4 linked regions of the Homo sapiens genome follow. The protein of the gene in region 1 purifies or fractionates together with the protein of each later gene. This does not show direct contact. Each region holds a gene or a part of one and is shown in the gene's direction. Other genes may lie near its edges. The genes, in order: CASP9, HPRT1, RNPEP and AKAP12.

Region 1 (7,848 bases):
GAGGCTGTGCAGGGGCCATGTCCCTTCTTGTGTCCAAAACACCCTTGGCTTTGTGGAAAAGGGCTGTGGGGCCCTGCCCACCTCCTGTTGTTTTCTTGGGAGCCATGTGGTCCTCTGAGGAGTTGGCTGCACCGTCCTGGGCAGGTCGGTGTTCCTGGGAGAAGCCCTCTGGGAGAGGGAGGGCAGAGACCAGGTCTGCTCACGAAGCTCCTGCACCCAGAGTTTGTTCAGAGGCGGGTACAGCACACATGTTGTCTCAGCTCCTGTCTCTGTCCTGTGAGGCACTGCCCCAGGCCCCTTGCTGCTGGTGGGACTCAGGACACCAGGCCCACTGGGGGCTTGGCCCCTTACGTATTTGTCACTGTGATTAAGCCCTTACCCCTTACTGGGCCTCAGTTTCCTCATCTTTTAAGTTGAGGAGTTGGACAGATCACAGTTATAAGCTGGGGCCTGGAGTCCCCCTGTGGTCTGCACGGTGTTTTGAAAACTGGCAAATTTCACATAAAAATCAGGATTTCTAGTTTCTCTTGACAAACCGCAAAGGTCTGGCCTGACGAGGCCAGCATCTTCAGCCAGTAAAACTCCAGCCTGTGGCTGGGCAGGGCTTTCCCTTTGGTCCTTTCTCTCATAATATGGTCCCTAGAGCTCATGAAGAATGTGGACTCCCAGGCCCTACCCTGGACCTCTTCATTCCAAGTCCGCCCAGCAACAAGGTTTCCAGGTGATTTCCATGCCCTTGAGGTCTGAGCTGAACTGATTTAAAGCAGCCACTCTCAGCGTTGAGCTGCCTCAGTCAGAGGGGCCTGGAGGACCATACTGCTGATTAGGAGGTCTGGGTGGGGCCCAGGAATCACATTTCTTACAAGTTCCCAAGCGATATTGATGCCGCTGCTGCAGGGGCCAAACTTTGAGAACCACTGGTCTAGAGGCCGCAGCCAGCACTCTCCAGGCACACTGGCCCCTAGAGGCACATGAGTTTGACATGCAACCCCTTGCTGTCAAGGTGTCTTTCCAGATGCTGACCAGGGTCTTTCCAGAACCAACCTGCTCTGTCTCAATCAGCCTCGTGCCCCTGGCTTTGACCTTCCAAATCCTTGGCTCCCACAAAACCTCTGAACAGGCTGTTGGATTCCTACTCCAACTTCTTGGTTTTGTAACCAGGGTTCTTGGTCTTCTAGGCCAGCCACCTGCAGTTCCCAGGGGCTGTCTACGGCACAGATGGATGCCCTGTGTCGGTCGAGAAGATTGTGAACATCTTCAATGGGACCAGCTGCCCCAGCCTGGGAGGGAAGCCCAAGCTCTTTTTCATCCAGGCCTGTGGTGGGGGTAAGCAGCTCCTCAGCCTCCCTCTGGGTGGGTCTGGTGGGGAGGGAGCCGCCACCTGCTTCTTTCTCCAGCCTGCCCCTCACAGGGCCCATGAGGTCTCTCCAGGCAGTCAGAGGGTACCACACATGGTCCCTTTTTGGCAGCACCTCTGTCTGGCTGGAGCAGGCCCTGCTCTGTCTGCTTTGTAGAGGTCAGAGTCTTCTGTTTCATGGCACAGTGGCATCATGGGCTCAAGTAACTTTGGCAGCTTCAATTCCAAAGACTTGGCAAAAAGAAAGCAGAAGAGAGAGGAGAAACCTCTTTTTATTTTTCTTGTCACCATTCTCCTGACCTCCATCAACTAGACCCCGTTTCCACTATCCCAGAGAAAGGGTGGCCACAGCTAAACTGCATGGAGAAACCAAAGAATTTAAATATTGGAATTTTCAAAAGTGTAGTTGTGGGGGTTCGAGGAACATTTAAAGATTACTTGGGCTGGGTGCAGTGTCTCATGCCCAACACTTTGGGAGGCCGAGGCAGGAGGATTGCTTGAGCCAGGAGTTCGAGACCAGCCTGGGCAACACAGCGAGACCCTGTCTCTATTTTTGTTTTGTTTTTTAAATGTATTACTTGGATTCTTTGTAGTTTTGCTGTATGCTCTAATTTTAAACTTAACTCCTATTACAGTGTTATCTGATTTTCTTATAAAAAAAGAGGGAAGAGAGACAAACATGGGGTTCCTAGTTTGTGGGTCATGACAGGAATATCAGGGAGCGCTAGAAATTCTGTCCCAGGGAGTCCCCTCTGCCCTAGGCTCTCCACGGACTGGAACATTCAGAAGGTATATCAGTTCCTTGCCTCCAGCCTGATCTGCCAGAGAAGTGAGCACTGTTATACCATAGCGCTGTCCAGCTCGTCCAGCTGTGACATGGGCACCTGTGGTCTATTTCTCCTGTGCACATCCAACTGCCCCATCCCTATTCCACGTTGGTGGAGTTGGGTGGAGGCTACCTAGGAGAGCAGTCTCTGGTCACATCATTCATCCAGTAAGTGTTTATTGAGCACCATCTGTATATACCAGGCTGTGCGTTAGGTGCTGGGGATAGGGGAAAAACAGAGTTTCAGTCTCCTGGAATTTATAATTTGACATGAACTGTATTAAGTCACTGTCATGACCCATGCCCATAACTTGACCACAAGTGATTGAGAACACTTGATTAACCCTGGATGGGCTACTGACCTATCTATCACACAGCCCTGGGCCAGTTCATCTCTAGACAGCTCAGCAAATGGGGAAAATAACAGAACCCACTCCCAAGCTCAGGTGATCCTCCCACCTCAGCCTCCTGAGTAGCTGGGGCTACAGGTGCACACTACCATGCCCAGCTAATTTTTCTATTTTTTTTTTGTAGAGACAGGGTTTTGCCATGTTGCCCAGGCTGGTCTTGAACTCCTGGGTTCAAGCAATCTGCTCACTTCGGCCTCCCAAAGTGCTGGGATTACAGGCGTGAGCCACTGTGCCCAGGCAACTTTAATAATATTTAATGCACTAATTGGTGTGTGTACAGTGATTGGTTCATTTTAATAACTGAAAACCCAGCCTGCCCCCCGCTCCCACCCCGGAGGACCCAGTGTCACATAAGAGTCCCCCACCCCGCTGTCGCCAGCAGAGTTCCCTCAGGACAACAGTAACAGGAAGTGAGGAAGGCTGCCACTCTCGGGGCTGTAGAAACCCTGCTCTGCCTCACCTCCTGTCTTATCCACAGTGTGTGGTCCAGCAATGCTCTTCCTTCGGAGCCTCCGGTCCCTCTTTCTCCTATGAATCAAATGAAAGACAGAAAGGGCAGGGGAATTAGGAATGCAGGCTGAGCAGGCATACCTACTTTCTGGACAGTTAGTCAGTCTTGTGCTCCTCCCATGCCCCATCCAGTCTCAGTCTCAACAGCAGGGAGGGCCTTTGTCACGTGAATATCTGCTGTCACTCTTAGGACTCAGTAGCAGGGCTTCCAAGGCCTTTGGTGACCTGGCCCCTGCCACTTCACCTTCCCCAGCCTGGCATGCTCCGAGTCCCCAGCACGGCCCAGCCTTCCCAGGATGTCCAGGCTCTTGCTTGCTCTTCTACCTGCTCCCCTGGCTAACTCTTTTTTTAAAATTCATTTTTACTTATTTTGTTTTAGAGATGGGGGTCTCACTATATTGCCCAGGCTAGTCTTGAACTGTTGGGTTCAAGTGATACTCCCACCTCCGCCTCCCAAAGTGCTGGGATAACAGGCATGAGCCACCGTGCCTGGCACCTGGCTGACTCTTAATCATCCATCCTTCTGGTTACAATTTATTGTCACTTCCCTAAACACCCCCTTTCTTGGCCAAAGTCAGGGTTAGCTGGCCTTTGTGCTCCTGCAGCCTCTGTCCCTCCCCTACCATAGCACTGTCTCATTGTATTGAGATGGGCTTATCCCCTGGTCAGCTCTGAGGGGAGGGCCAGGCCTACCCTGCAGCCAGGCCCCCAGCCTGGCACAGAGCCCACAGTCTGGTTGCGTCTCATGTGGATTCTAATTTGAATGTAAAGGAGAACCATACAAAAGCATCTGTGGTGGTTCACGCCTGTAATCCCAACAGTTTGGGAGGCCAAGGTGGGAGGATCTCTTGAGACGAGGAGTTTGAGACCAGTCTCTATCATAAAATTTAAAACATTAGCCAGGCCTGGTGGTGTGTGCCTATGGTCCCAGCTACTTGGGATGTTTAGGCAGGAAGATCGCTTGAGCCCTGGAGGTCGAGGCTACAGTGAGCCATGTTTACACTATTGCACTCCGGCCTGAGTGACAGAGCCAGTCTGTCACCTGTCTCTAAAAAAATAAAAAATAAAAAAAAAATATGAGCCAAATTTGGCATAATGTAGATTTCCATCATTAAAACAAAACTCACAGAAAACAGCAAGATTTCAAAGCCAGCATGCAGTGATTAAGATATCCCTTTGGAGTCGGGTCCTTGCTTTGCCTCCGCAGGCTGCGTGACCTGGTGCTTAACGCAGTTACCACATGGTGGCGCCACGTCAGCTGAGAGCAGAAATAGAAAGGTCCCCGTTCTTCACTAGTGCCTGGCGAGGGGTCTGTTTACATGCATCAGAACACCTGTCCTGGGTTTTGAGGACTCTTGTATTGCTATTTTATAACTCACTATAATACTTTAAAAATATTTAATTTAAAAATCATTTAATAATTAATTTAAATATAATAATAAATAATTTAAAAATCATTTTTAAATAATAATTTTAAAACCCTCCAACATGTCATCCACCCATTCATTAGGAGGTAACAGCACCAGGGCTGAAAAATGTGCATTAAAGTCGATAACTTTGGTGTGCAACGTCAGCGTGATAGGCAACCAAGTAGCCACCTCTCTGAGGCTGAGCCGTCAATTTTGGGGTGACCCCTCTTTGGGATTTGAGAGATCGGGCTGAGAAGACAGAAAGCAATGACAATATGCTGCAGTGGTCGTGGATTTTCTGTGCGGAGGGAACATCTCCTCCTACTGTATATTTATTCTTGTGGGGAATGAGTCCTGCCCTACGGGGAGTTTTGCATTAATGAGGCTCTCTAAGAACCGAGGCTCTCCAAGAACCAAGCCATGCATACAGTGCAGAACACCCTAGGCAAGGCCTTCACATCAGATTTGTGGGCTGAGGCTGACACGTGAACGGAGCTGCCTTAGCGCCCCGCCTGACCCCCTCTTTCCTTTCCCCCACACCCCCTGCTCTGATCTGCTGTCTCTTCTCAGCCTCTCTGCTCACCCTGTCTCTTCTGGCCATTCTTAACGGCATCCCCCACTTAGGCATCCCTCCGCCCCCACAGGCTGCCAGGCAGACCCAGCACCATCACATTCACGCCTCAGGCCTCCTTGCTGTGCTGTTTCACGTCATTCCCAGACACCTGGGGCAGATTCCGGAGTCTCTACCAAGAAAACAACCAGAAGCAATGAACCACAAAATCTGGAGAAAAACATGGCTGTCACAGATCAAAGAGGCCCCCCTTTGGAGGCTGGGGGCCTCCGTGAGAAGCAGTGGGATAGTTGAGAGGCAAAAAACATGGGGCAGAATTCCGCGCCCCTCATATCAGCTGGGAGAATGCCAATGACCAGTGGTTTCTGAGCTTTAGCTGTGTGGGGTAAGAGGTCAATAGATTTTGGTGTTACTATTATGGGGTTGCCAGAGCCACCTCTGTTCCTGCCAGATGGGCCCCCAGCTCCTCTGGGTGAACTGTGACTTCCCTCAGTCACATAGATCCAGCCATGCAAACCTGCCTGCGTTGCGGCCACAGCACTTGCTGTCTCTCTCACCAGGACCGTTCTCCCTGATGGCATCAGGGCCTGGATCACAGTCACATTCTCCAGGAGTGTTTTTGCAGGGGACCCTCTGGATCACTCCTACTCCAACTTCAGCCTATTTTTAAAAAAATTTCTCTTTTTTTTTCTGCAGTATGTATACATAGTTAAATATATATTTATATTTTTTAACCAAAGCTCTTGTTAGATGCCTTCTTTCCTGAGTAGCCCTCTGTGCTCCGCCTTACCCCACCCACCATGAGCCCTACTGCAGAAGACCTCATCCCGGAAGACCTCCGTCAGTGTCTCCACTTCAGTAGCTCTGTAGCTGAGCCATGTGGGGCACAAGTCCTGCCAGGACCTCTCTGTTTTCCAAGCTTGGCACTGCCTTTGGGGAGTCTAGATTTTAAAATGGAAAAGACAAAAAATATGGCAACCTAAAAAAGAAAATAATTCAGAATGTTATAAGCTAATACAGCCATCTCATTTTTGCATCTTCCTTTTGGATTCCAGCCCATGAGCACAGTCTGCTTTTCTCAGCTAACGTTATCCCTTAAGCAGTTCCCCAGATCTCCATGGCCTTCATCATCACTAGCTCAAATGGCTTTATAATGGGCCATTTTCATGACATGCACTAATTTACTAAACCATTTTCCTAATGTCGGCCATTTAGGTGATATCTAATTTTTGGCTCACACAACCACAGGTGTCTTCATATAGAAAGCTTTTGACTGCATTTGAATTATTTTCTTAGGAAATTACTGGATTAGAAGGTGTAAACATCTCCATGGATTTCATTATCCATGACTTGGTGTCTATTTGGTATTTTTCTGATGGCTTCTTTGATTCTAGAAAAGGATTTGCCATAGTGCAAGAAGTACAAATGATAACACTAGGACAAAATAGAGAGGGAACACAAGGAGAGAAGAAAAGTAAAAGTTTGGATTCCAAAAATACATCCTAGGATGTCCTGCAGCTTTCTACAGTTCTCTAATGTACAAGTGAATTAAAAATTTAAGGTATACAACGACTGATTTTAGAGATAAAATCACTTTGCAGATGTAAAGAAACATGGAAAAATCCCAGCCATTGGTAATAGTAGACTCAAAAATGAGGTAGGTCAAAGTCCCAGTCAGCCTCTGTCTGGGGGGAAACCCCTTAACTTATCTCAGTCTCAGTTGCCTAATTACATAAAATGGAATACTGATAGCTACTTGCTAGAGGTGGCCTGCGCATTTTTTACGCTTTCCAGCCGCCATTGGAAATAAGATCATTGGCCAGGGGCGGTGGCTCACGCCTGTCATCCCAGCACTTTGGGAGGCTGAGGCGGGCAGATCACGAGGTCAGGAGATCAAGACCATCCTGGCTAACACAGTGAAGCCCCATCTCTACAAATAATTAGCCAGGTGTGGTGGCACACGCCTGTAGTCCCAGCTACTTGGGAGGCTGAGACAGGAGAATCGCTTGAACCCAGGAGGCGAAGCTTGCAGTGAGCCATCGCGCCACTGCATTCCAGCCTGGATGACAGAGCGAGACTCTGTCTCAAAAAAAAAAAAAAAAAAAAAAAAAGATCACTTTCAAGATCCATGGAATCTGGTGTTCTATAGTTCTATATCTGGTATTTGCAAGACAGAAGTCAGGAATAGAGACTCCAGACACATTTCTTCCCTTGGTTGTCTTAAAGGGGACACTGTGATCTTGACAGCCTGAGTAAAGGGTTTGAGTGAGTGCCTATGATATAGTGGACAGTTTCCTCAACTATATTTCTAAAAAAAGACAAGTTTTATGTCTTTTTAAAAATTGTGGCAAAATACATATAACATAAAATTTACTATCTTAACCATTTTTTTGGGGTGATTGCTTGAGCTCAGGAGTTTGAGGCTGGAGCGAGTTAAGATCATGCCACTTCAATCTGGGCAACAGAGCAAAAGTGTGTCTCTTAAAAAAAAAAATGCCTGTAATCCCAGCACTTTGGGAGGCCAAGGCAGGCAGATTGCTTGAGCCCAGGAGTTTGAGACCAGCCCGGGCAACATGGCAAGATCCTGTCTCTACAAAAAATACAAAAATTAACTGGGTGTGGTGGCACCTGTAGTCCCAGCTACTTGAGAGGCTGAGGTGGGGGATCACTTGAGCCTGGCAGGTCAAGGCTGCAGTGAGCTGTGATTGCACCACTGCACTCCAGCCTGGGTGACAGAATGAGACTCTCTCAAAAAACAAAAACAA
Region 2 (8,483 bases), on another chromosome or scaffold:
CGTCTCTACTAAAAAATACAAAAAAAATTAGCCAGGCGTGGTGGCAGGTGCCTGTAGTCCCAGCTACTCGGGAGGCTGAGGTAGGAGAATGGCGTGAACCCGGGAGGCAGAGCTTGCAGTGAGCCGAGATCGCGCCACTGCACTCCAGCCTGGGTGACAGAGCGAGACTCCGTATCAAAAAAAAAAAAAAAAAAAAAGTAAAGCTTATGGAAAGTTATTCTGATGAAAGTGAAACATCTGGCATTATTGAGAAAACCATTATCAACTCATTGAAAAAGTAAACATTTAGTATAAATATTTTTGTGATGATTGTTTTTCATAGAAATACAAATTTTGGCGGAGCACAGCACCATGGTTAAAAACAGACTTCTTAATAAAGAAATTTCTAGAGAAGAAATACAGTTGGACTTGGTTGTGGCGCACAAATAATTCATAATTGTGTTCAAACAAGTCGATTACAAAATTGTTTCTGGCTGGGTGCAGTGGTTCATGCCTGTAATCCCACCACTTTGGGAGGCCGAGGCAGGCGGATCACCTGAGGTCAGGAGTTCGAGACCAGCCTGATCAATATGGTGAAACCCTGTCTCTATTAAAGATACAAAAATTAGCCGGGTGTGGTGGCGTGCAACTGTAGTCCCAGCTATTCGGGAGGCTGAGAAAGGAGAATTGCTTGAACCTGGAAGGCAGAGGTTGCAGTGAGCTGAGATCACACCGCTGGACTCCAGCCTGGGTGACAGAGCAAGACTCCATCTCAAAAAAAAAAAAATTGTTTCTGGAAAGGCATCGGGAAGAGGAATCTTAGGTTACACTCATGCTTTCCTTATTTCTTCCTGCATGCAGATATTCCAGTAAAGAACAGTGACATACCTAGCATATAGGACGTCCAGAGTAGATAATTTTTTAACATTTTTCACCTCTATGACAAAATCATTTTCAATAATAATCATATAATAATTAGGAATAATTATTTTCTTGCTTTTGTCTGTAGTGGGAAAACAATATTTTAGAAGAATACATTTCCACTTTAAATATAATGTGGAAATTCAGTAAACCATTTCATATGTGAACCAGATTTTCACTTACCAAGAAAAAGTCTTACATCTTGCAGATTGCAGTGTTTGCTGTTTTCCATTTTAAATACAAATAAAAAGTCCAAATTGTCACACAGAATGACAAGATTGAAAGAACAGTACTGTTTCTTTGTTTTTACAATCATCTGGCTATCATTATTTGTTTCAAATCCACTATTAAAATACAGGAGTATCTGGTACTGCAGGATTTGGAGAAAGGAACTGCAAGCCAGAGGCAAGCTGGAAGGATTCTGAATTGTTGGGTACCTAATTTAGAAACAAATTTGAGTAGCTGAGACCACATGTGTCAGGGGACGAATATATAACCGGAAGTTCTCTGAATTAACTTCCTGATAGAACACAATGTTTGTTAAAAGGATAAGTAATGAAAATGTTCTAATATGAATTTCAAGTTCTATGCCAAATAGAAATGCATTCATATATTCACCAAAAGATATGTACAAAATGTTCATAGTAGCATTATTTCTAATAGCCCAAACCTGGAAACTGCCCAAATGTCCATCAACAGGGGAATGGATAAGAAGTCTTAGAGGCAGGCTGGGCGTGGTGGCTCACATCTGTAATCTCACCACTTTGGGAAGCCAAAATGGGCGGATCACCTGGGGTCAGGAGTTCAAGACCAGCCTGGCCAACATGGTGAAACCCCATTTTCTACTAAAAATACAAACATTAGCCAGGTCTGGTGTCACACGCCTGTAGTCCCAGCTACTCGGGAAGCTGAGGCAGGAGAATTGCTTGAACCCGGGAGGCAGAGGTTGCAGTGAGCTGAGATCATTCAACTGCACTCCAGCAGAGCAGCAGAGCGAGACTCTGTCTCAAAAAAAAAAAAAAAAGTCTTAGAGGCTAGAAGAAAGTGAACTGTTTAAGGCAAAATTATTATGGAACACGTAACATTGGTATCATCATGTATTGAGCCAAGCTCTATGCTAGGCACTTTTGCATATATTATTTTGTTTAATCTTCACCACACTCTGTGACAGAGATATTAACCTCATTTGACGTATAAGAAACCAAGCACGCAGGGACCAAGGATCTTGCCCAAAGTCAAAATGCTATAATAGTGGGGAACCCAGGATTTGAACTCAGTCCAAAGCCCATACATCCCTTTTCCATTACAGCCTGCTGCCTCTCCAGGATAAAGAGGGAAGACAGGGAAAGTAGGGAAGTATGGACTTCACAAATTCATACATGCTAAAATTATAACAGCTACTGTTTCTTGAGCACCTATTATGTGGCAAATACTATATGAGGTACTTTACATAAATGATTTTTAGAATTCTCGTAAAACTCTTCATGGCAGTAGTTATTATTCTCTCTCTCTCTCTTTTTCTTTTTTCTTGAGACAGGATATTTCTCTGTTGCCCAGGCTGGAGTGCAGTGGCACAGTCTTGGCTCACTGCAGCCTGGACCTCCTGGGCTCAAGCCATCCTCCCACCTCAGCCTCCCAAGTAGCTGGGGCTACAGGCACATGGCCACCAGGCCCAGATAATTTTTCATTTTTGTAGAGACTGAGTCTCACCATGTTACCCAGGTTTATTATTCTCATTTTTTAGATGAAGAGACTGAGGTCCAGAGAAGCTCAATGACTTGCCTAGTTTTACAAATCTCCTGCCATCACATACCCCTCAGCGTCCTTAATAAGAGGGAGGCCACCAACTATGTGCTGGGCACTGTGGTGGATGCTGGAGCTATAGGGTTGAGTATATAAGAAATGGTGTTGCTGGAGCAACTGTTGCTTGCTTACCTGACCTATCTGAGAATTAATTAGCAGGGGAACATATTTTTGTTTTCAGATTCAATATAAGAACTTGTGTGGGCAAAAATAAAGATCAGTAGTAATAACAGTAGTTCCCATTTGCTGACTGTACTGTCCTAAGTGCATATATATATACATACACACACGCATACCTATACTCCTCTAATACTCAAAATGATCCTGTTTATGTATTGTTAATATGCTCATTTTATTTTTAAATTTTTATTTATTTTTATTTTTATTTATTTTTGAGACGGAGTCTCATTCTGTCGCGGAGGCTGAAGTGCAGTGGTGCGATCTCAGCTCAGTGCGACCTCCGCCTCCCGGGTTCAAGTGATTCTCCTGCCTCAGCCTCCGGACTAGCTGGGATTACAGGCGCCCGCCTCCACGCCCAGCTAATTTTTGTATTTTTAGTAGAGATGGGGTTTCGCCATGTTGGCCAGGCTGGTCTCGTACTCCTGACCTTGAGTGATCCACCTGCCTCGGCCTCCCAAAGTGCTGGGATTACAGGCATGAGCCACCGCGCCGGGCTAATATGCTCATTTTAGTGAGGCAAAAATAGAGGCTCAGAGTCTGATTTGTACAAAACTACAGAGCAGTTAAGTGTCCTCTCAGATGTGTACCCTGATCTGGGTGACTCTAGGACTCTAGGTCTCAACTGTTACAACCAGTTAAGGGTTTGGGGAAGCACTGGGCCAAGAGTCAGGAAAATGGAAGCCACAGGTAGTGCAAGGTCTTGGGAATGGGACGTCTGGTCCAAGGATTCACGCGATGACTGGAACCCGAAGAGCCGGGGCCCGGTTTACGGCCGCCATGAAGCAACGCGCGCCGGTAGGTTTGGGAATCAGGGAGCCCTCTGAATAGGAGACTGAGTTGGGAGGGAAAGGGGCTTCGCTGGGGGAGCCTCGGCTTCTTCTGGGAGAAAATTCCCACGGCTACCTAGTGAGCCTGCAAACTGGTAGGCGCCGGCGTAGGCGCGCGGGCGGGGCCGGGGGCGGGGCCTGCGGGGCGTGGCGGGGCGGGCAGAGGGCGGGGCCTGCTTCTCCTCAGCTTCAGGCGGCTGCGACGAGCCCTCAGGCGAACCTCTCGGCTTTCCCGCGCGGCGCCGCCTCTTGCTGCGCCTCCGCCTCCTCCTCTGCTCCGCCACCGGCTTCCTCCTCCTGAGCAGTCAGCCCGCGCGCCGGCCGGCTCCGTTATGGCGACCCGCAGCCCTGGCGTCGTGGTGAGCAGCTCGGCCTGCCGGCCCTGGCCGGTTCAGGCCCACGCGGCAGGTGGCGGCCGGGCCCTGAGGCGCGGGATCCGCAGTGCGGGCTCGGGCGGCCGGGCCCAGGGAACCCCGCAGGCGGGGGCGGCCAGTTTCCCGGGTTCGGCTTTACGTCACGCGAGGGCGGCAGGGAGGACGGAATGGCGGGGTTTGGGGTGGGTCCCTCCTCGGGGGAGCCCTGGGAAAAGAGGACTGCGTGTGGGAAGAGAAGGTGGAAATGGCGTTTTGGTTGACATGTGCCGCCTGCGAGCGTGCTGCGGGGAGGGGCCGAGGGCAGATTCGGGAATGATGGCGCGGGGTGGGGGCGTGGGGGCTTTCTCGGGAGAGGCCCTTCCCTGGAAGTTTGGGGTGCGATGGTGAGGTTCTCGGGGCACCTCTGGAGGGGCCTCGGCACGGAAAGCGACCACCTGGGAGGGCGTGTGGGGACCAGGTTTTGCCTTTAGTTTTGCACACACTGTAGTTCATCTTTATGGAGATGCTCATGGCCTCATTGAAGCCCCACTACAGCTCTGGTAGCGGTAACCATGCGTATTTGACACACGAAGGAACTAGGGAAAAGGCATTAGGTCATTTCAAGCCGAAATTCACATGTGCTAGAATCCAGATTCCATGCTGACCGATGCCCCAGGATATAGAAAATGAGAATCTGGTCCTTACCTTCAAGAACATTCTTAACCGTAATCAGCCTCTGGTATCTTAGCTCCACCCTCACTGGTTTTTTCTTGTTTGTTGAACCGGCCAAGCTGCTGGCCTCCCTCCTCAACCGTTCTGATCATGCTTGCTAAAATAGTCAAAACCCCGGCCAGTTAAATATGCTTTAGCCTGCTTTATTATGATTATTTTTGTTGTTTTGGCAATGACCTGGTTACCTGTTGTTTCTCCCACTAAAACTTTTTAAGGGCAGGAATCACCGCCGTAACTCTAGCACTTAGCACAGTACTTGGCTTGTAAGAGGTCCTCGATGATGGTTTGTTGAATGAATACATTAAATAATTAACCACTTGAACCCTAAGAAAGAAGCGATTCTATTTCATATTAGGCATTGTAATGACTTAAGGTAAAGAGCAGTGCTATTAACGGAGTCTAACTGGGAATCCAGCTTGTTTGGGCTATTTACTAGTTGTGTGGCTGTGGGCAACTTACTTCACCTCTCTGGGCTTAAGTCATTTTATGTATATCTGAGGTGCTGGCTACCTCTTGGAGTTATTGAGAGGATTATAAGACAGTCTATGTGAATCAGCAACCCTTGCATGGCCCCTGGCGGGGAACAGTAATAATAGCCATCATCATGTTTACTTACATAGTCCTAATTAGTCTTCAAAACAGCCCTGTAGCAATGGTATGATTATTACCATTTTACAGATGAGGAACCTTTGAAGCCTCAGAGAGGCTAACAGACATACCCTAGGTCATACAGTTATTAAGAGAAGGAGCTCTGTCTCGAACCTAGCTCTCTCTCTCTCGAGTAATACCAGTTAAAAAATAGGCTACAAATAGGTACTCAAAAAAATGGTAGTGGCTGTTGTTTTTATTCAGTTGCTGAGGAAAAAATGTTGATTTTTCATCTCTAAACATCAACTTACTTAATTCTGCCAATTTCTTTTTTTTGAGACAGGGTCTCACTCTGTCACCTAGGATGGAGTGCAGTGGCACAATCACTGCTCACTGCAGCCTCGACTTCCCGGGCTCGGGTGATTCTCCCCAGGCTCAGGGGATTCTCCCACTTCAGCCTCCCAAGTAGCTGGGACTACAGGTGCGCACCACCATCCCTGGCTAATATTTGTACTTTATTTTATTTATTTATTTATTTATTTTTTGAGATGGAGTTTCGCTCTTGTTGCCCGGGCTGGAGTACAGTGGCATGATCTCGGCTCAGTGCAACCTCTGCCTCCCGGGTTCAAGCGATTCTCCTACCTCATCCCCCTGAGTAGCTGGGATTACAGGCGCCTGCCACCATGCCTGGCTAATTTTTTGTATTTTTAATAGAGACGAGGTTTCACCATGTTGGCCAGGCTACTCTCGAACTCCTGATCTCAGGTGATCCACCCGCCTTGGCCTCCCAAAGTGCTGGGATTACAGGCGTGAGCCACTGCGCCCGGCCTAATATTTGTATTTTTTGTAGAGATGGTGTTTTGCCATGTTGTCCAGGCTGGTCTTGAACTCCTGAGCTCAAGCGATCTGCCCGCCTCTGCTTCCCAAAGTGCTGGGATTACAGGCATGAGCCACCGTGCCTGGCCTAGGTAGACGCTTTTAGCTTTGGGGTGTGATGCCTGCCCCAGTATATAGTGAATTTAATTATTGCTAGAGCTGGCTGTTTGTTAGTTTTCTTTGAACATAAGATACTCATTGTTTTTAGTTTGCAAATCCCTCTTCCTTTTTAAAAAATTTCTTTCCCTTAAATTGTTTGCATGTTAGCAATAACAAATGCTTAAATGGTGCTATGTGCTAGATACTCTTCTAAGCCCTGTTATGTATATTAACTAATTTTTTAAATTACACAAATCAGAGAGGTTAAGTAACTTGCCCAAGATTACCCAACAATACTAGGATTTGAACCTAAGTTTGTCTCACCCCAGATTCTGCTCTTAATCTCTAAACTTTTAAGTTAGTAGTGACAATAGTAGGTATTTATTGAATACTTAACTATGTTTTAGGCGTTGAAGTAAATATTTTGCAGGCATTATCTAATGTAAACACCCTAAAGTTACATAACAGGTACCCTTTAGGTAAATAAACACTAGTATGACCTTGGAGGCACAGATAGTTGAAGTAACTTGCCCAATATCACTTACATGAAATTGGCCCTCAAATGTGTCTGATACAACCCATGCTGCTTGTAACTATCGTTTTAAACTGCCAGGGTAAACTTGGACACACTTGAGCTAAGAAAAAGCTTTTAGATTTTTGCAAATTAATGTGAAAGATATGCTTTATGTGGATATAATATCTTCTAAATTTCGGGGATGGTAGTCCTAGAAATGTAATCCTGCCCTAGCCGAGCTTACCCTGCCAATAATTTTTTACAGAATTGGTAAAACGGAGCACCTTTTTTTTGTCCTTGGCCACACTGTTATCAACAGGGTGTAGATTGACATCAATCTGTAGGTGTAAACCAGAATTACTCTTTGTGACCACCAGGAAATAGAGCAGTTCAGTTCAGGGGTTTCTTTCTGTGAATTTAGCACTGTGACCTGCATACTACAAGTCTACTTTGTTTTCTATCCATTGTTTGTATCTGGGTATTGCAAAAGGTAGGAAAAGGACCAACCAGATCAGCAGAGAAGAGTTGCCTTGGAGTTTTCTTTTAGTTTTCTGCAGTTCATTAGATAGTAACTAGGCCATGTCATTTTACTCCCTTGTAGTGAAGATATGTTGAAGTTGTACTGGTATACTCTTCTACCTTTCTGTAATTTTATATTGTGTAGACTTGATAAAATTTATGTGTCAATCACCACCATTAATATCAATATTGAGCCTCAATTCTTATTTTTCTGCCCAGTGGCTGCCAAATTACTAACATTTACAATAATTCACTACTACTAAGATAATCTACTAGTTCGATCACATACTTCAAATTGTTATGGAACTACTGTCTTCAGCATTGTGCTTCTGATAACTGATAAGTATAATTTTTTTTTTGTCCAGAGTGAACATGTCTATTCTTCCACTGTACACACTAATAAAAGGAAAAATTGTAATATTGGGTAAATTCATGTCCTTACACATGTAGTAGTTATGAGCCCATGTCCCTAGAATGAGTAATAATTTATCCCTCCCTTGGTTGAATAGTCAAGAATGCTGATTTTAATTCTTCTAACAGCTTTATCCCTCAGAAGGGAAGGCAAGCAAGTTATATATGTAGTTTATTTGTAAGACTGATATGAAATTGGAAGATGAATCTACTATTAGCTTTAATTATTTTTACATTTAGGAATATTGCATCAGTAACTCATAATTTTGGTTTTCTGTTATCCTGAGTTAACACAAATTATCCAAGGAGATGGCGGATCATCTGCTTTGAGGTGTTTTTTTTTGAGAATTTTAATGTATCTGAATATAAAAGGTAAAAATATGCCAACTAGCAATTTCTGCCCATTCCAGAAGTTTGGAAATATTACTCATTACTAGGAATTAAATAAAATATGGTTTATCTATTGTTATACCTCTTTTAATTCACATAGCTCATTTTTATCTTTTATTTTTGTTTGTTTTTTTTGAGATGGAGTCTTGCTCTGTCACCAGGCAGGAGTGCAGTGATGCAATCTCGGCTCACTCTAGCCACCGACTCCCTGGTTCAAGCGATTCTCCTGCCTGAGCCTTCTGAGTAGCTGGGATTACAGGCAGGCACCACCACGCCCAGCTAATTTTTGTA
Region 3 (7,848 bases), about 190 Mb from region 1:
AGTTGTCTTTCCATAAGTGGTTAATATGGTGCGTGGTACATGGTAAGTAAGCTGTGTTAGCTCTTACTGCTAACTTTTGTATTTCTTTCTTTTTTTTTTTTTTTTTTTTTTTTTTTTTTTTTTTTGAGAAGGGATCAAAAAGCTCCCTACATTGTTCTTTTTAAAAATCTCGTTTCCAGGCTGGGTGTGGTGGCTCACATCTGTAATCCCAGCACTTTGGGAGGCCAGGGCTGGCAGATCACCTGAGGTCAGGAGTTTGAGACCAGCCTGGCCAACATGGTGAAACCCTACCTCCACTAAAAATACAAAAATTAGCTGGTTGTGGTGGCTCACACCTGTAAACCCAGCTACCTGGGAGCCTGAGGCAGGAGGATCGCTTGAATCTGGGACACAGAGGTTGCAGTGAGCTGAGATCATGCCATTGCATTCCAGCCTGGGTGACACAGCGAGGCTCCATCTAAAAAAAAAAAAAAAAAATACTCATTTCCTAGCTGATCAGTAAAAACATCACTGACTGATGGCATTCAATGATCAGTCAATTGATCAATTCTTATTGACTGGTATAGTGGCACCATCTCAGCTCACTGCAGCCTTGACCTCCCTGGCTCAAGTGATCCTCCCACCTTAGCCTCCTGAGTAGCTGGGGTAGCTGGGACCAACCACAGACCTGCCACCTCCACACTTGGCTAATTTTTGTTATTTTTTGTAGAGATGGGGTTTTGCCATGTTGCCCACGCTGGTCTTGAACTCCTGGGTTCAAGCCATCTGCCCGCTTTGGCATCCCAAAGTGCTGGGACTACAAGCATGAGCCAACATGCCTGGCTTAATTGAGCAGCCAGTTCAGAGAGTTCCCATATACAGTTCAGTACCTCCTACATACACATATACACACAGATTCCCCTCTTGCTACCATTTTGCATTAGTATGACACATTTGTTACAATTAAACAATGCTGATATATTATTAACCAAGATTGAATCATTTTACATTAGTATAATAATATATTTGTTATAATTAATAAACCAGTACCGATACTGGAGTCCATAGTTTTTTCAGATTCCCTTAGTTTTTACTTAATGTCTTTTTCTGTTCCAGGAAGCCATCCAGAATTCCACATTATATTTAGCTGTCATGTATCCTCTTGGGACTGTGACAGTTTCTCAAACTTTCCTTGTTTTTGATATAACTTTGACAGTTTGTTTGTTTTTTGAGACAGGGTCTTGCTCTGTCATCCAGGCCGTAGTGCAGTGAGTGGCACAATCATGGCTCACTGCAGCCTTGATCCCCCTGGTTCAAGTGATCCTCCTGCCTCAGCCCAAGTAGCTGGGACTACAGGCGCATACAACTGCGCCCAGCTAATTTTTTGAATTTATTATTTGTAGAGATGAGGTCTCACTGTGTTATCCAGGCTTGTCTCAAACGCTTGGGCTCAAACAAACAATTCTCCCATCTTGGCCTCCCAAAGAAAGTGCTAGAATTACAGGCATGAGCCACTGCTCCCAGCCAGTTTTTTGTTTTTTATTTTTTTATTTTTATTTTTTCTGTAGAGACAGGGTCCCCCTATGTTGCCCAGGCTGGTCTCAAACTCCTGGCCTCAAGCGATCCTCCTGCCTTGACCTCCCGAAGTGCTGGCATTACAGGTGTGAGCCACTGAGCCCAGCCAACCTTGACAGTTTTGAGGAGTGTTGGCCAGGTATAGCGTAGGATGACCCTGTATTGGAATTTATCTGATGTTTTCTCATGATTAGATTGGGATTATGGGTTTTGAGGGGCAATTCACAGAGGTAAAGTGCCATTTTCTTTCTTTTTTTTTTTTTTTTTTCTTGAAATGGAGTTTCACTCTTGTTACCCAGGCTGGACTGCAGTGGTGTGATCTCGGCTCACTGCAACCTCCGCCTCCCTGGTTCAAGCGATTCTCCTCCCTCAGCCTCCGAAGTAGCTGGGACTATAGGCATATGCCACCACCCTGGTTAATTTTTGTATTTTTAGTAGACACAGGGTTTCACTGTGTTGGCCAGGCTGGTCTTGAACTCCCGACCTCAGGTGATCCACCAGCCTCGGCCTCCCAAAGTGCTGGGATTACAGGTGTGAGCCACTGCGCCCAGCCAAAGTGCCATTTTCATCAGGTATTGAGGGCGCATAGTATCCACATGATTTATGACTGTCAGCGTTAACCTCGGTCCCCTGGCTGAAGCAGTGATTATCAGCTTTCTCCACTGTGAAGTTATTCTCTCATCCCTTTCTATACTGCACTGTACCTGTTATAAGGAGACTAATTAAATTTTTCACACACAAAAACTCAAACCCAGCATCCCAACGTAGCTTCCTTATGCCTCTTAAAATAGGTCTCAGACACTGCTGTGTTCAGAACCCTTCATTAGACTTGCCCAGGCCTGCCTCCCCAACTCTGCATCTGGAGCCTGCATCTGTTTATGCCTCTCCTCATGTTGCTGCTCGTCTCCTTGTGAATGTCTCCTCCCTTCCTTTCCAGCCATCTCAATCCTGCGTGTCTTTGAAGGTCCAGCCAGAAAGTTTTCTTCCCCTATGAAATCATCCTGGAGTAATCGAATCCATTTCTAAATTCTAAATGCTATTTGTTACTGACCTATGCTCCATCCTGCCCCTCTTCCAGGTAAATGAATGGCTGTTTGCTATAGGCAAAAACTGGGTTTTGTGATAAATCATTCAGATTTTACTTTTTTTTTTTTTTTTTTTTTTTTTTTGAGGCAGAGTCTCGCTCTGTCACCCAGGCTGGAGTGCAGTGGCATGATCTCAGCTCACTGCAACATCTGCCTCCTGGGTTCAAGCAATTCTCCTGCCTCAGCCTCCTGAGTAGCTAGAATTACAGGTGCATGCCATCACACCCGGCTAATTTTTGTATTTTTAGTAGCAACAGGGTTTTACCATGTTATCCAGGCAGGTCACGAACGCCTGACCTCAAGTGATCCACCTGCGTCGGACTCCCAAAGTGCTGGGATTACAGGCGTGAGCCACTGCACCCAACCCAGATTTGCCCTTTGTTTAAGAGCTAACAGAACACAGATAAAGAATCATATAACCAGTGCCTATTATATAAAATACCTTTCTTCTGAAAAGGTAAATTTTAGGAACAGAAAACACATATTAGGCCAGGTGCAGTGGCTCATGCCTGTAATCCCAGCACTTTGGGAAGCTGAGGCGGGCAGATCACCTGAGGTCAGGAGTTCAAGACCAGCCTGACCAACATGATGAAACCCCGTCTCTACTAAAAATACAAAATTAGTCGGATGTGGTGGTGCATGCCTATAATCCCAGCTACTTGGGAGGCTGAGGCAGGAGACTCGCTTGAACCCAGGAGGCGGAGACTGCAGTGAGCTGAGATCACACCATTGCACTCCAGCCTGGGCGACAAGAGTGAAACTCTATCTCGAAAAAAAAAAAAGAAAAGAAAAGAGAATGTATATTAGGCTGAGCATGATGGCTTATGCCTGTATTCCCAGCACTTTGGGAGACTGAGGTGGGCGGGTTGCTTGAGGCCAGGAGTTGGAGACCAGCCTGGCCAACATGGTGAAACCCTATCTTTACAATACAAAAATTAGCTGGACTTGGTGGTGCACGCGCCTGTGGTCCCAGCTACTTGGGAGGCTGAGGCATGAGAATTGCTTGAACCTGGGAGGTCGAGGTTGCAGTGAGCCGAGATTGCACCACTGTACTCCAGCCTGGGCGACAGAGCGATACTCTGTCTCAAAAAAAAAAAAAAAAAAAAAAAAAACATATTAATCACTGACTCCCAGTTGAGTTCTGCTTTTCTGTGTCTTATCACAAGTCCAAATGCAGTTGCTTCAGTAGTTTTTTGTTTGATGAGAAACTACTACAGTGAAAAGGACACAGATAGGGTACAGATGACAAGATCAGAGGCTCGGTCCAAGGTCTCTGAGATGACCCATGGGATGCAGTGAGGAATGGACCCTTTCTGGTGGCTCTGCCCTGTGAAGTGGATGTCATACTTTGGCATGGATTCCAGGATGAACTAAATACACAGAGGAGAGAGCTTTCTAGTTCAAACCAGACTGGCTGGCGGAAAGGTTTTAAGGATTACCTAAAATTCTCTCATTCCAGCCAGCTCACTTCTCTGGCCAGACTGAGCTCGTGTGGGAGATGTCAGTTCTGAAATGTTCTTCTTTTCGCTTAGGTTTGCTGGTTGGCTCCCGAGCAGACAGCAGGAAAGAAGAAGCCCTTCGTGTACACCCAGGGCCAGGCTGTCCTAAACCGGGCCTTCTTCCCTTGCTTCGACACGCCTGCTGTTAAATACAAGTATTCAGCTCTTATTGAGGTAAGGAGACTAAGGTTAGGTGCACCTGCCCTTGGGATGAAGAAATGATTTCAGATCTATCAATCAGGTCACGTTTCAGTGGTAAATTATTATATCCATTCAGTGGTACTTCTGAAAAATTGCTTACTTTTAAATTCTTCCACCTACTGAAGTTGTATGTAGCCTTCCTCTAAATCCCATCAGTTGAGCACAGATTTAGTTTCTTGAAACCTTTGTGTTCTCCAAGATAGACTCCAGGCCATTATCATCACACACAGGTGGCCGGTCATGCTCTTATTCAAACTAATCAAAAGGAAACTCTCTCCAGGTAAAATCTCCTAAGCTTTCTCTGTTGTCAGGTCCCAGATGGCTTCACAGCTGTGATGAGTGCTAGCACCTGGGAGAAGAGAGGTCCAAATAAGTTCTTCTTCCAGATGTGTCAGCCCATCCCCTCCTATCTGATAGCTTTGGCCATCGGAGATCTGGTTTCGGCTGAAGTTGGACCCAGGTAGGAGACAAAGACCCCACAGGCAAGGTTGGATTGGCCTCAGAGGTGAGGAGGACTCTGACCAGTGGACCTGCTGGGGGGGTTCTTGGGCAGTCTTGGATCCTCTGTCTGAGTCCAGAGCCTTTCTGCAGCTCATGCAGCATGAGCACAGCTGGAGGAAGTGCTCTTTTTCTCCCTGCCTTTCTCACTCCCTCTCTCCAGTTCTAATCCTGCTGCCTGGAATGAGATCATCATCCCTGCTAGCAGTAGCGCTGTCCTGGGCTGCCTTACAGAGGGATGTTGGAATTTAGGCTGCAGTTTTGGGAAATGGATTTTTTTTTTTTTTTGAGATGGAGTCTTGCTGTGTTGCCCAGGCTGGACTGGAGTGCAATGGTGCGATCTTGGCTCACTGCAACCTCTGCCTCCTGGGTTCAAGCGATTCTCCTGCCCCAGCCTCCCAAGTAACTGGGACTGCAGGCATGCCCCACCACGCTCGGCTAATTTTTGTATTTTTCGTAGAGACGGGGTTTCACCATGTTGGCCAGGCTGCTCTTGAACTCCTGACCTCAGGTGATTCACCCGCCTTGGCCTCCCAAAGTGCTGGGATTACAGGCATGAGCCATCATGCCCGGCCTGGGAAATGGATCTTTATTAATATCTTTAAGTTCTAAATGCCCTTCTAGCAGCTATATCCACTTTCCTATCTTTGTACCAAATCTTCCCCATTTTCTTTTGCACGTAGTTCCTGGAAATAACAACTTTGGTATCATTTCCCTCGAAGAGGGAAGTGGACTCTCCTTCCTATCTGCAGCAGATGCATGAGTCTAAGCCTACGGTGAGAGCAATGCCTCCGTGAAGTTACATGGATCTTGTGAAGATAAAAAGGGATTTTGTAAGGTTTCCTGATAAAAGAGGTTTGACCAGGAGTATAGGTTTTTCCTGGCTCTCATATTACCTCCACCATAGCTTAGTCCCAATGTGGGAGCATCACAGGCTGGACGGTGAAGCCGTGACCTTTTCCTGGCACTGTTGCTGTTCTTTATCTCTGGCCCTGCTCCCAGTTCCTAGAGGCAGTGGTGTCCTTGACAACATTAGTTACGAGCCTCAGACTTCATAACTGGGCTCAGTGGCACTGCTGGTATCATGAGTCTTAGTTTCTGGTTATCAGTTGGAATAATAAATGGGATTCCATTGGCATCTGCTCCCAGCGCACACATTCAAAACAATACCAGTCTGGAAAGACAAAGTGCCCTCCTCTTACGAAGGGCTGTCTTCCTAATAGGCAGGGCGGGAAATAACCAAAAGGATGTCATCTTTGCAATAGACAAGCAAGTAGATAAGTAAAGGAACGTCGTTTCCAAGAATACCCTTACTAAGGTTCTACTTGTAAGAGTATGAACTATTAATGGGAAATGAGAGAACAATAGATTCTAAAGATACTGAGTGATAATGATTTCTTTTTATACTGCCTGTAATAAAATGACAACATGGTATATCGAACTAGGTGACAGAATCCACTTAACTGGTGGTAATGCCTTATTCCTTCCGTGATTAAATGGACAGTTCTTGCCTCCTGGGTCACATCGTAGGGTCTTGTGGGGGGTTATTTATTTATTATTTTTGAGATGGCGTCTTGCTCTGTTGCCCAGGCTGGAGTGCAGTGGCGCGATCTTGGCTCACCACAACCTCCGCCTCCTGGGTTCAAGTGATTCTCCTGCCTCAGCCTCCCAAGTAGCTGGGACTACAGGTGTGTGCCACCATTTCTGGCTAATTTTCATATTTTTAATAGAGACAGGGTTTCACTATGTTGGCCAGGCTAGTCTTGAACTCCTGACCTCGTGATCCATCCACCTCGGCCTCCCAAAGTGCTCGATTACAGGCATGAGCCACCACGCCGGGCCGTGGGGGTTTATTAAATCGGAGGGTCTTCTGGCAAGGTATGCCACCTATCCCAGTCCCTGTTACTGCAAGAGGAAAATCCTGGGCAGAGGGGAATTATGGGTATATCCCAGTAGGCCCTTTTATGTATAATCTCTTCTAATCCTTACACAGACTCCATGAGGATGATACTTTCTACATTTTAAAAATAAGCAAACCAAGGCTGTGGTGAGTGGCTTGTGCAGGACCACTAGTTGGCAAAACTGGAATTAAAATTCAGGTATTTCCATTGCAAATCCAGTGCTCTTTGCAATATACTACAGGTAGTGAGATTGCAGCTTGACTGAGAGCATCCTGATTTATTTTGACAGAAATGTGTGTCCTGGTGGAGGTATCTTGGATGACTGTCTTAAACCTTCTAGTTGTAACAAGCTGAAGTCCACTGGGCTGAAGGACTGTGGTAATTTTGACATCCAAGGTGGTGGTAGAACAATTCACAAAGTAATTCCTTGAAGATACTGACTGCCGTCCCATGATCTTTTTCTGTCTGGTTTCCTGTCACATCATCTTTGGCGACTTTTCTCTCCTAACACCCAGGGTTGAGGGTGGCTGCAGGGTTTCTTGTGCCTTTCTCCCTCCCTCCCTCCCTCCCTCTTTCTTTCTTTTCTTGCCTCGCTCTCTTGCCCAGGCTGGAATGCAGTGGCACAATAACAGCCCATTGAACCTCAAGCTACCAGGCTCAAGCAGTCCTCCCACTTCAGTCTCCAGAGTAGCTGGGACCACAGCTACTCTGTCACCATGCCCAGTTAATTTTATTTATTTTCTGCAGGAGCAAGGTCTTGCTATGTTGTCCAGGCTGATCTTGAACTCCTGGGCTCAAGAGATCCTCCCACCTCGGCCTCCCAAAGTGTTGGGATTGCAGGCATGAGCCACAACACCAACCTTCAGGGTTTCTTGACCTCTACTCAGGGAGCCTTCTCCACTCTGTCAGCCACCCATATTCACACCCATGCTCTGGAGTCTAGAGCCTAGACATCGTCATTGTCATGAACTGTACCATATCTGAACTTTTAAGGCCCTTGAGCCCCTTGTCCTCATTCATCCTGACTCTGCTAACCTTCCAGCTCTCTGACGGCCTCTCTCCCACTATATTCCACCATGTCTCCTCCTTGAGCTCATGGCAGCCTCCCTT
Region 4 (7,848 bases), on another chromosome or scaffold:
TTGCCAACCGTCTTGAAGCAACCAAACAACCTCCTTTTAAAAAATCACTTAAATGACATCCAGAATATCATTGAACTTGTTGGCATAATGCCCAGTTATCAATTTGGAGACAAATCAGTGCACTTACATGTATCCTTGGAATGTATTTAGTTTTCATTTGAACTAGCCAAATTTATCACTCAGGCTTTGAACACAAATGTCTTTTCAAAAGGACTCCCCAATTAAGAATGACTCAGCACCATGGCCCTTGCCTCCCCTCTTCTTGTTAAGCTCCAATTCCTGACCTCCAAGTAATCCCATCTCCCACTCTAGGCTCCGTGGCACCATGGACCCGTCCCAGCAGTTTTCACATGTGTGGGTTTAGTGTTCTTGCTGTTGTGAATACTTCGCAGGGGCAGGGAACACGCCTGGTTGTGCCGACCAACGGTGTTCCTTCATGCGTGCCATGTTGCCTGGCACAGAGGCAGCTCTCAGGAATACTTGTGGAAAGAGGAAGGGGTGATATTGGCTCCTTGGTTTTGATTGGAAAATATCAAGTTGGAGAATACCTTGACCTATCTGATTTTACTACAATTTAACCCTTGATCATTTCATTATCACGTGAGACTGATTATGATAGTGACTAAGGCAAGTCAGTCTGTTCGGTTATTAATAGATCAAGTGAATAGTTTGACCAAAAACTTCAGATTTGGGGGCTTTGGATTCTGTTTCTCTAGATATAGAGTGACTTGTTAGCATTGCAATTTCAAATTGCGTTTTATCTTAAATAGACAAATATATGAAGTGCATATGGCTCAAATGAGTCCATTTCATACCCTGAGTTACTTAGGATTACATCTTGAACTTCCTTGATGTGTCTGTGGACGGTTGGGGAGGTTTAGGCTAATACATCATTTTTCCCTCCTTGGATAGAATGTGGTCATTAATTAAAGGTTGTAGGCAGATCTTTTTCTATCTAATAGCTGACATTTATATCACATGCATGCTATCTATTTAGCAATTGGATTTACTTTCCTTTTTTTCTGCTAGTTTTAGTTACCAGTTATTCACTAAGTGCCCTTATCTGAACAGACATTACACTGGTTGAATTATCACTTGTATTAGGTCAAATGGAGAGTTAAACAAGCTTTTGATTACTCAGGCTTAACGTTTAGATGCACTAAAGCAGAAGTCTTGGTTTTATCTATGGTTCATTTCTGTAAAATGGAAGGAGTCTTTATCTTCTATTCAATCTTTTGTAATCTTTATTTTTTCCGTTAGATCCAGAGATAGACTGGAAATCTTTTACAGTCTTTATATGTAAGATCCAGGCGGGGGCAGGGGGAATGGCTTGGTCTGTTATCTGCCAGGGTTTAATTTTGAGACATGGCCGTTTCACAACTGCAGGGTGCGGGAAGATTAGATGACCTGAATGCTGGTGGTAAGTAAAGCCTCACACTTCACATTATTCCTTAATTGTCTGTTTTTAAAAATTTGTCTTAAAAAAATATTAAGGTGGCAACATATTCAGGTGGCAACAGAGGGTGGGGTGACCAGTGACAAACTGACTTCCATGTCTCTGGCTAATCTTGATTTCTGGAGCCAGGCTCCAGACTAAGTCTGGACAATCAATTAATTAGCCTTTCTATATGTATTGCCTGATGAATGATTTCAATGCTGGACATTGAACAATGGTCTGTTGCAACAGGGTGAGGCCATTGTCTCTGGCAGGTGGGGAGATGGGGGCTCTTGTTAGCTCCATTTGATTACAAGAGCCTTGAATCACCAAAACATAAAGATGTACTCGAATAGAAGAGTCCGTTGTCTGACTGGTAAATTTAAGGATGTGTTTGACCCTCGTGCATTAAAACAGACAATTGGCCGGGTGCGGTGGCTCACGCCTGTAATCCCAGCACTTTGGGAGGCTGAGGCAGGCAGATCACAAAGTCAGGAGATCCAGACCATCCTGGCTAACACGGTGAAACCCCATCTCTACTAAAAATACAAAAAATTAGCCAGGCGTGGTGGCGGGCGCCTGTAGTCCCAGCCACTCGGGAGGCTGGGACAGGAGAATGGCGTGAACTCGGGAAGCGGAGTTTGCAATGAGCCGAGTTGGCGCCACTGCACTCCAATCTGGGCAACAGAGCGAGACTCTGTCTCAAAGAAACAAACAAACAAACAAACAAAACCAGACAATTGAGGCGGCCAGCTGCATTTCATAATTCCTCCCATAAGCTTCCTCCTATTTGCCACTTGTTTAGCAATGGAAATGGAGAACGAAGATGGCCTCAAAGTGACTACATCACCAGTGTTACAAAAATGGGCCAGAATTTAAGGCAAGAATTATATGTTTCTTAATAGAGGGATGTTTCTCTGTGTGTGGCTACTTGTATTCCTGTGGATTTTTACCAGATTATAAGAGCTGCTAATTTCTGATCAGAACAGAGACCAAAAATTGGAGATATGGATGTGGGGATGATTCTTTTGGGTACCGATAGACTGCAGGAATCGCAGGGCTTCCTTTAAATCCATTACAGCTTATAGGCTAGTGGATGAATAAGATAAGTGGAGATTTTCTCTTGAAATATTTCCTTCTATGAAGAAAAGGCCTTGAAATGTGCATCCTCTTTGGGTTGACTAATTTCTATGCCTTTACAGCTTTAAGCTGACATTATAAGATTATTCTAGTTTGGATCTTGTAAGATAATTAACAAAATGGAAATAAAATGTTTTGTTTTTAAAAATGCTAATAAATTATTTATTTTCCTTTGTCTTAGTTAGTTTTAATACATATTCAGTGCTTAAAGAACACCAGTGCAGGAAAACTCAAACTAAATGGCATCATCCCCCATCTCTATAATTCTATATGCAGTAGCCATTCATGCGAAGTTAGAAATTAGAATTTATAGCACTAAGCATTCTAAGAAAAATTAAGCCAGTACGTTTATCTCTTGAAAAAAAAAAAAGCAACTAAATTTCCTTGAACCGAATTCTTTTTTTTGGCTCACTGCAACCTTTGCCTCCCAGGTTCAAGCGATTCTCCTGCCTCAGCTTTCCGAGTCGCTGGGATTACAGGCACCCACCACCACGCCCAGCTAAGTTTCTGTATTTTTAGTAGAGATGGGGTTTCACCATGTTGGCCAGGCTGGTCTCAAACTCCTGACCTCGTGATCCACCCGGCTAAGGCAGGAGAATGGCGTGAACCCGGGAGGTGGAGCTTGCAGGGAGCCGAGATGGCACCACTGCAGTCACCACTGCAGTCCAGCCTGGGCGACAGAGAGAGACTCCGTCTCAAAAAAAAAAAAAAAAAAAATCAAAAGCATGTGTTTACCCTTATTAATGATTTTTATTTAAAGTCATTGCATAGCAATATTCATTTAATGTTTATTTTTTAAAAAAATTAATGATTGAGAACTTAAATTTATAAGTAGGGTAAATTACTCACAAATTTAAGTAAAATTTGAAGCCAATATGATGGCTTCTTACATATTCTTTCGAAAACTTCATGCACATGAAAGTAGATAAAAATGGCACAGTCTTTTCCATTTAAGAAAAAGATCATATCACATATAGATTTAGGTTTTGGATGTCTTTTCATATCAGGACATAAATAACTGCCCCCATTCTTATTAATTTGGGTGCATAAATTTCCCTTTTGTGGGTTGAAGCCCTGTAACGATTTAACCAATTCCTTGGGTTTATATTTAGATTGTCCTCGTCCATAAGTGTAATTGCTGAATTGCAAGCTTTATATGCATTTAAAAATTTAACCCGGCAAGGTGCGGTGGCTCACGCCTGTAATCCCAGCACTTTGGGAGGCCGAGGCAGGTGAATCACAAGGTCAGGAGTTCGAGACCAGCCTGGCCAACATGGCGAAACCTCGTCTCTACTAAAAACACAAAAAATTAGCTGGGTGTGGTGGCAGGTGCCTGTAATCCCAGCTACTTGGGAAGCTGAGGCAGGAGAATCTCTTGAACCTGGGAGGGGGAGGTTGCAGTGAGCTGAGATCTCACCACTGCATTCCAGCCTGGGTGACAGTGCAAGACTCCGTCTCAAAAACAAAAACAAAAACAAAAACAAAAAATTTAACCCTTCCTAAATTGACTTTCCAAAGAGGTTCTACCACTTTGCAGTTCCACCGTGGAGATCAGCACTCGTTTTCCCATGCTTTGCCTTCATGGGTATCAGATTTTCCAATACTTGCCAATGTGCTAGGTGAAGAATGGTACCTCAGTTTCCTTGGTGCATTTTTAACTGTGAAGTTGAATGCCTCATCATGTTTCTCTGCCATGTGCTTGCCATCTGATCATGCACTGGTCTGGCTGTCAGAGCATGAAAGGCTATGGTTTGTTTCACTGTTAATTAATTTTCATTTTCATTTTCATTTAACTTTAATTTTATTTATTTATTGTTTTTGAGATAGGCTCTCATTCTGTTGCCCAGTGTGGAATGCAGTGGTGCAATCTTGGTTTACTGCAGCCTCGACCTCCTGGGCTCAAATGACCCTCCTACTTCAGCCTCCTGAGTAGCTGGGACTACAGGCACACACCACCAGGTAGCTGGGACTACAAGTGCACACCACCATGCCTGGCTAATTTTGTTTATTTTTGGTAGAGACAAGGTCTCACTGTGTTGCCCAGGCTGGTCTGGACCTCCTGGACTGAAGTGATCCTCCCACCTCTGCCTCCCAAAGTGCTGAGATTACAGGTGTGAGCCCCCATGCCCTGCCCAATTAATTTTTAAAGATTTTTTTTTCTAGCCAGGTGTGGGGGCTCACACCTGTAATCTCAGCACTTTGAGAGGCCAAGAAGGGAGGATCACTTGAGAGAAAGTTCAAGAGTGGCCTGGGCAACATAGCAAGACCCCATCTCTACAAAAAATAAAAAATTTAGCTGGGTGCGGTGACGTGTACCTGTAGTCCTAGCTACTTGGAAGGCTGAGGTGAGAGGATTGCTTCCACCCAGGAGTATGAGGCTGCAGTGAGCTATGATCATGCTACTGCACTACAGCCTGGGTGGCAGAGCAAGACCCTATCTCTATTTAAAAAAACAAAACAAAACAAAAAAACAAAAAAACTTTTTCCCCAGAAATTAATCAAATTGGAAAAAAGCAAGTTCAAGAATAAAAACGCAGCTGAGGTAGAGCAGTCTTACTCTCCTTTGCTCCTTTTCCTTTCCAAATTAATGAACCATCTTTAAATTTATTTGCTTGGAGGATGACCTACTTCTTTAGCTATCACTTTTAAAATTTCTTCTCTTGGAACAATCTAAAATCATTTAGTTGCCAGAAATTACTTTGTGGTCATGATCCGTGAAATGTTGAGATCAGGGATTGGAAGCAGCAGAAATCCACCTCTTGGGAAAACAATAGAGTGAAGGCTTACCCGGGATCCTCTCCCGTTCTCACGGCAAACAGCCTGGCTCTGTTAACTGGATGGTATACATGGATTTTCTGAGAAAAATGTAGGTGTTCAAAGCACAGGAAACCATCTGGGACACCGGGACACCATTAGGCACCTCTTAATACAAGTATTCATTTCAGGTTCAAAGCTTTTTGTCTTCCCTGTGATTTCTCTGTGATGTTTTTTAAATGGGGGAAACCCTGTAGTTTCTCTCTGCCTAATCTTAATCCCAGTTGTAGTAGCATGTCAGTTTCATGTTTGATTTCAAAACGAAATAAACCAAAATTTAAGAAGGAGAGATTACTGCAGTTTATTGGCTGACCATCTATTTGTTATATGCAAATACTGCAAACTGGGAGTATTGAAGGATTAAATTTTTCCTAATTCCCAAACCTGGTGGTGCTATTGAATCACCTAGAGAGCTTTTCAAAGACACCCCTACACCTCATCCTGGATTTATTGAATTAGAATCCCAGGCAATCTCAGGGTCTGGGATTCTGTGATTTTTTTTTTTTTTTTTGAGAGACAGGGTCTCACTGTGTTTCCCAGGCTAGTCTTGAACTCCCGGACTCAGGCCATCCTTTGGCCTCAGCCTCCTGAGTAACTGAGACTACCAGCTCCTGCCACTGTGCTGGGATTCTGTAGTCTTAAAATGCTCATCAGATATTCTAATGTGTGGGGTGTGGGCTCCATTACCTTAAGGGAGGGGAAGGAGTAGGCGTAAGAGCTGAATAAGGGCCAGGGAGAGGTTCAGGTCTAGGTGACACTGGGTGATAGCATGTGCAGATTTCACTGAGATTGGAACTTGTGTGGGTGAGAGGGACGGTTTCACATGATGAAAGAGTAGCATTTTCCTTCACACATCTGGAGGATAAAATAAAGGAAAATATTTCTTCCACATAATTTCATTCCTTTGTTTGACTATATTAAAAAGTGGGTTGCTGGCCGGGCATGGTGGCTCACGCCTGTAATCCCAGCACTTTGGGAGGCCGAGGCGGGCGGATCACGAGGTCAGCAGTTCAAGACCAGCCTGGCCAACATGGTGAAACCCCATCTCTATTAAAAATACAAAAATTAGCCAGTATGGTGGTGTGTACCTGTAATCCCAGCTACTCGGGAGGCTGAGGCAGGAGAATCGCTTGAACCTAGGAGGTGGAGGTTGCAGTGAGCCGAGACCGCATCATTGCACTCCAGCCTGGGCGACAGAGCAAGACTCTGTCTCAAAAAAAAAAAAGTGGATTGCTAACGGAGGCTTTTTAAAATAGATTGTGCCATTCAAGGTAAGTAGGTGTTCAGTGAAATGCCCGTATCCCTACTGAGCCAGAAGCTGTGACTTTTCGGTGTTCCCCTTCCATCTCATTGCCTCCTAAGCCCTCTTCCCTTATTTATCATTTTAAAACTTCCCTTGTGCTGAATAAGTAGACAGTAGCTAAGGGCTTAGTTTATGGCATTTGACTGGTCCAAAAATCTGTAAAGAAATTTTAAAACCTACCAAGTTGTTGAAGAATAGAGTTCTGGCTTTCTCAGCCACTTACTATTCAATCTTGATTTCATAAATATTTCTGTTTTAATTTCTTCCATTTATTTTTTAATATAATAGAGACAAGGTCTCACTGTGTTGCCAAGGCTGGTCTCGAACTCCTGAGCTCAAGTGATCCTCTTGCCTTGGCCTCCCAAAGTGCTGGGTTACAGGGTGAGCCACCTACGCCTGGCCATTTCATAAATACTTCTTTACTAGCTTCTGTACTCCAGGAACTGTGCTAGGAACTGGGGAAACAGAAGTTCAGTTCTAAAAAAGTTAAAGTTCTCTCTTTCATATATTTAGATCTTTATTCCACTAGCTACTGATGATGTCTAGAAGGAGAAATCTTAAATTCATTTTTATATGGGTTACCTATTGCTCCAGTACCATTGATTAAAAAGTTACCTCTTGTTAAAACTCAAGTTTCCATATATGCATAAACCTGTTTATTGATTTCCTTTTACTTTTAAATTTTTTCTGCTGTGTCTATTTGTGCAATAAACTGAAAGCATTGTGGGAGTGGCTAAACATCTGATCAATTATAATAGCAAGCCCATGGTTTAAAATAGTTTTATATTCTACATCTCAAGTGTTACCCTTGTCTCTTTCATGGCTATGGTGAGTTCATACATACATAAATACCAACATGTGGCTCGTGGGCATGGTGGCTCACACCTGGTGGGCATGGTGGCTCATGCCTATAATCCCAGCACTTCGGGAGGTGAGGGTGGGAGGATCACTTGAGCCTAGGAGTTCAAGATCAGCCTAGGCAGCATAGTGAGACCCCACTGCTACAAAAAATTTAAAAATTAGCCGGGTGTGGTGGCACATGCCTGTAATTCCAGCTAGTTGGGAGGCTGAGGTGGGAAGATCACTAGAGCCCGGGAAGTTGAAGCTGCAGAGACCCTGTCTCAAAAAAATAAATAAATAGGCTGGGCGTTGTGGC

What was found.
Region 2: the proteins of CASP9 (region 1) and HPRT1 purify together in Homo sapiens (affinity purification with mass spectrometry; one large-scale study listed by BioGRID and IntAct). This does not show direct contact.
Region 3: the proteins of CASP9 (region 1) and RNPEP purify together in Homo sapiens (affinity purification with mass spectrometry; one large-scale study listed by BioGRID and IntAct). This does not show direct contact.
Region 4: the proteins of CASP9 (region 1) and AKAP12 purify together in Homo sapiens (affinity purification with mass spectrometry; one large-scale study listed by BioGRID and IntAct). This does not show direct contact.

Annotation. Positions count from the first base shown.
Region 1 is NC_000001.11:15,498,089-15,505,936, reverse strand, and holds part of CASP9 (caspase-9 isoform alpha precursor), read left to right. Parts: intron 1-1,178; coding exon 1,179-1,326; intron 1,327-7,848. UniProt on the Homo sapiens protein: Involved in the activation cascade of caspases responsible for apoptosis execution. Binding of caspase-9 to Apaf-1 leads to activation of the protease which then cleaves and activates effector caspases caspase-3 (CASP3) or caspase-7 (CASP7).
Region 2 is NC_000023.11:134,456,270-134,464,752, forward strand, and holds the start of HPRT1 (hypoxanthine-guanine phosphoribosyltransferase), read left to right. Parts: upstream 1-3,895; 5' UTR 3,896-4,042; coding exon 4,043-4,069; intron 4,070-8,483. UniProt on the Homo sapiens protein: Converts guanine to guanosine monophosphate, and hypoxanthine to inosine monophosphate. Transfers the 5-phosphoribosyl group from 5-phosphoribosylpyrophosphate onto the purine.
Region 3 is NC_000001.11:201,984,733-201,992,580, forward strand, and holds part of RNPEP (aminopeptidase B), read left to right. Parts: intron 1-4,171; coding exon 4,172-4,312; intron 4,313-4,650; coding exon 4,651-4,799; intron 4,800-7,848. UniProt on the Homo sapiens protein: Exopeptidase which selectively removes arginine and/or lysine residues from the N-terminus of several peptide substrates including Arg(0)-Leu-enkephalin, Arg(0)-Met-enkephalin and Arg(-1)-Lys(0)-somatostatin-14.
Region 4 is NC_000006.12:151,242,385-151,250,232, forward strand, and holds part of AKAP12 (A-kinase anchor protein 12), read left to right. Parts: intron 1-7,848. UniProt on the Homo sapiens protein: Anchoring protein that mediates the subcellular compartmentation of protein kinase A (PKA) and protein kinase C (PKC).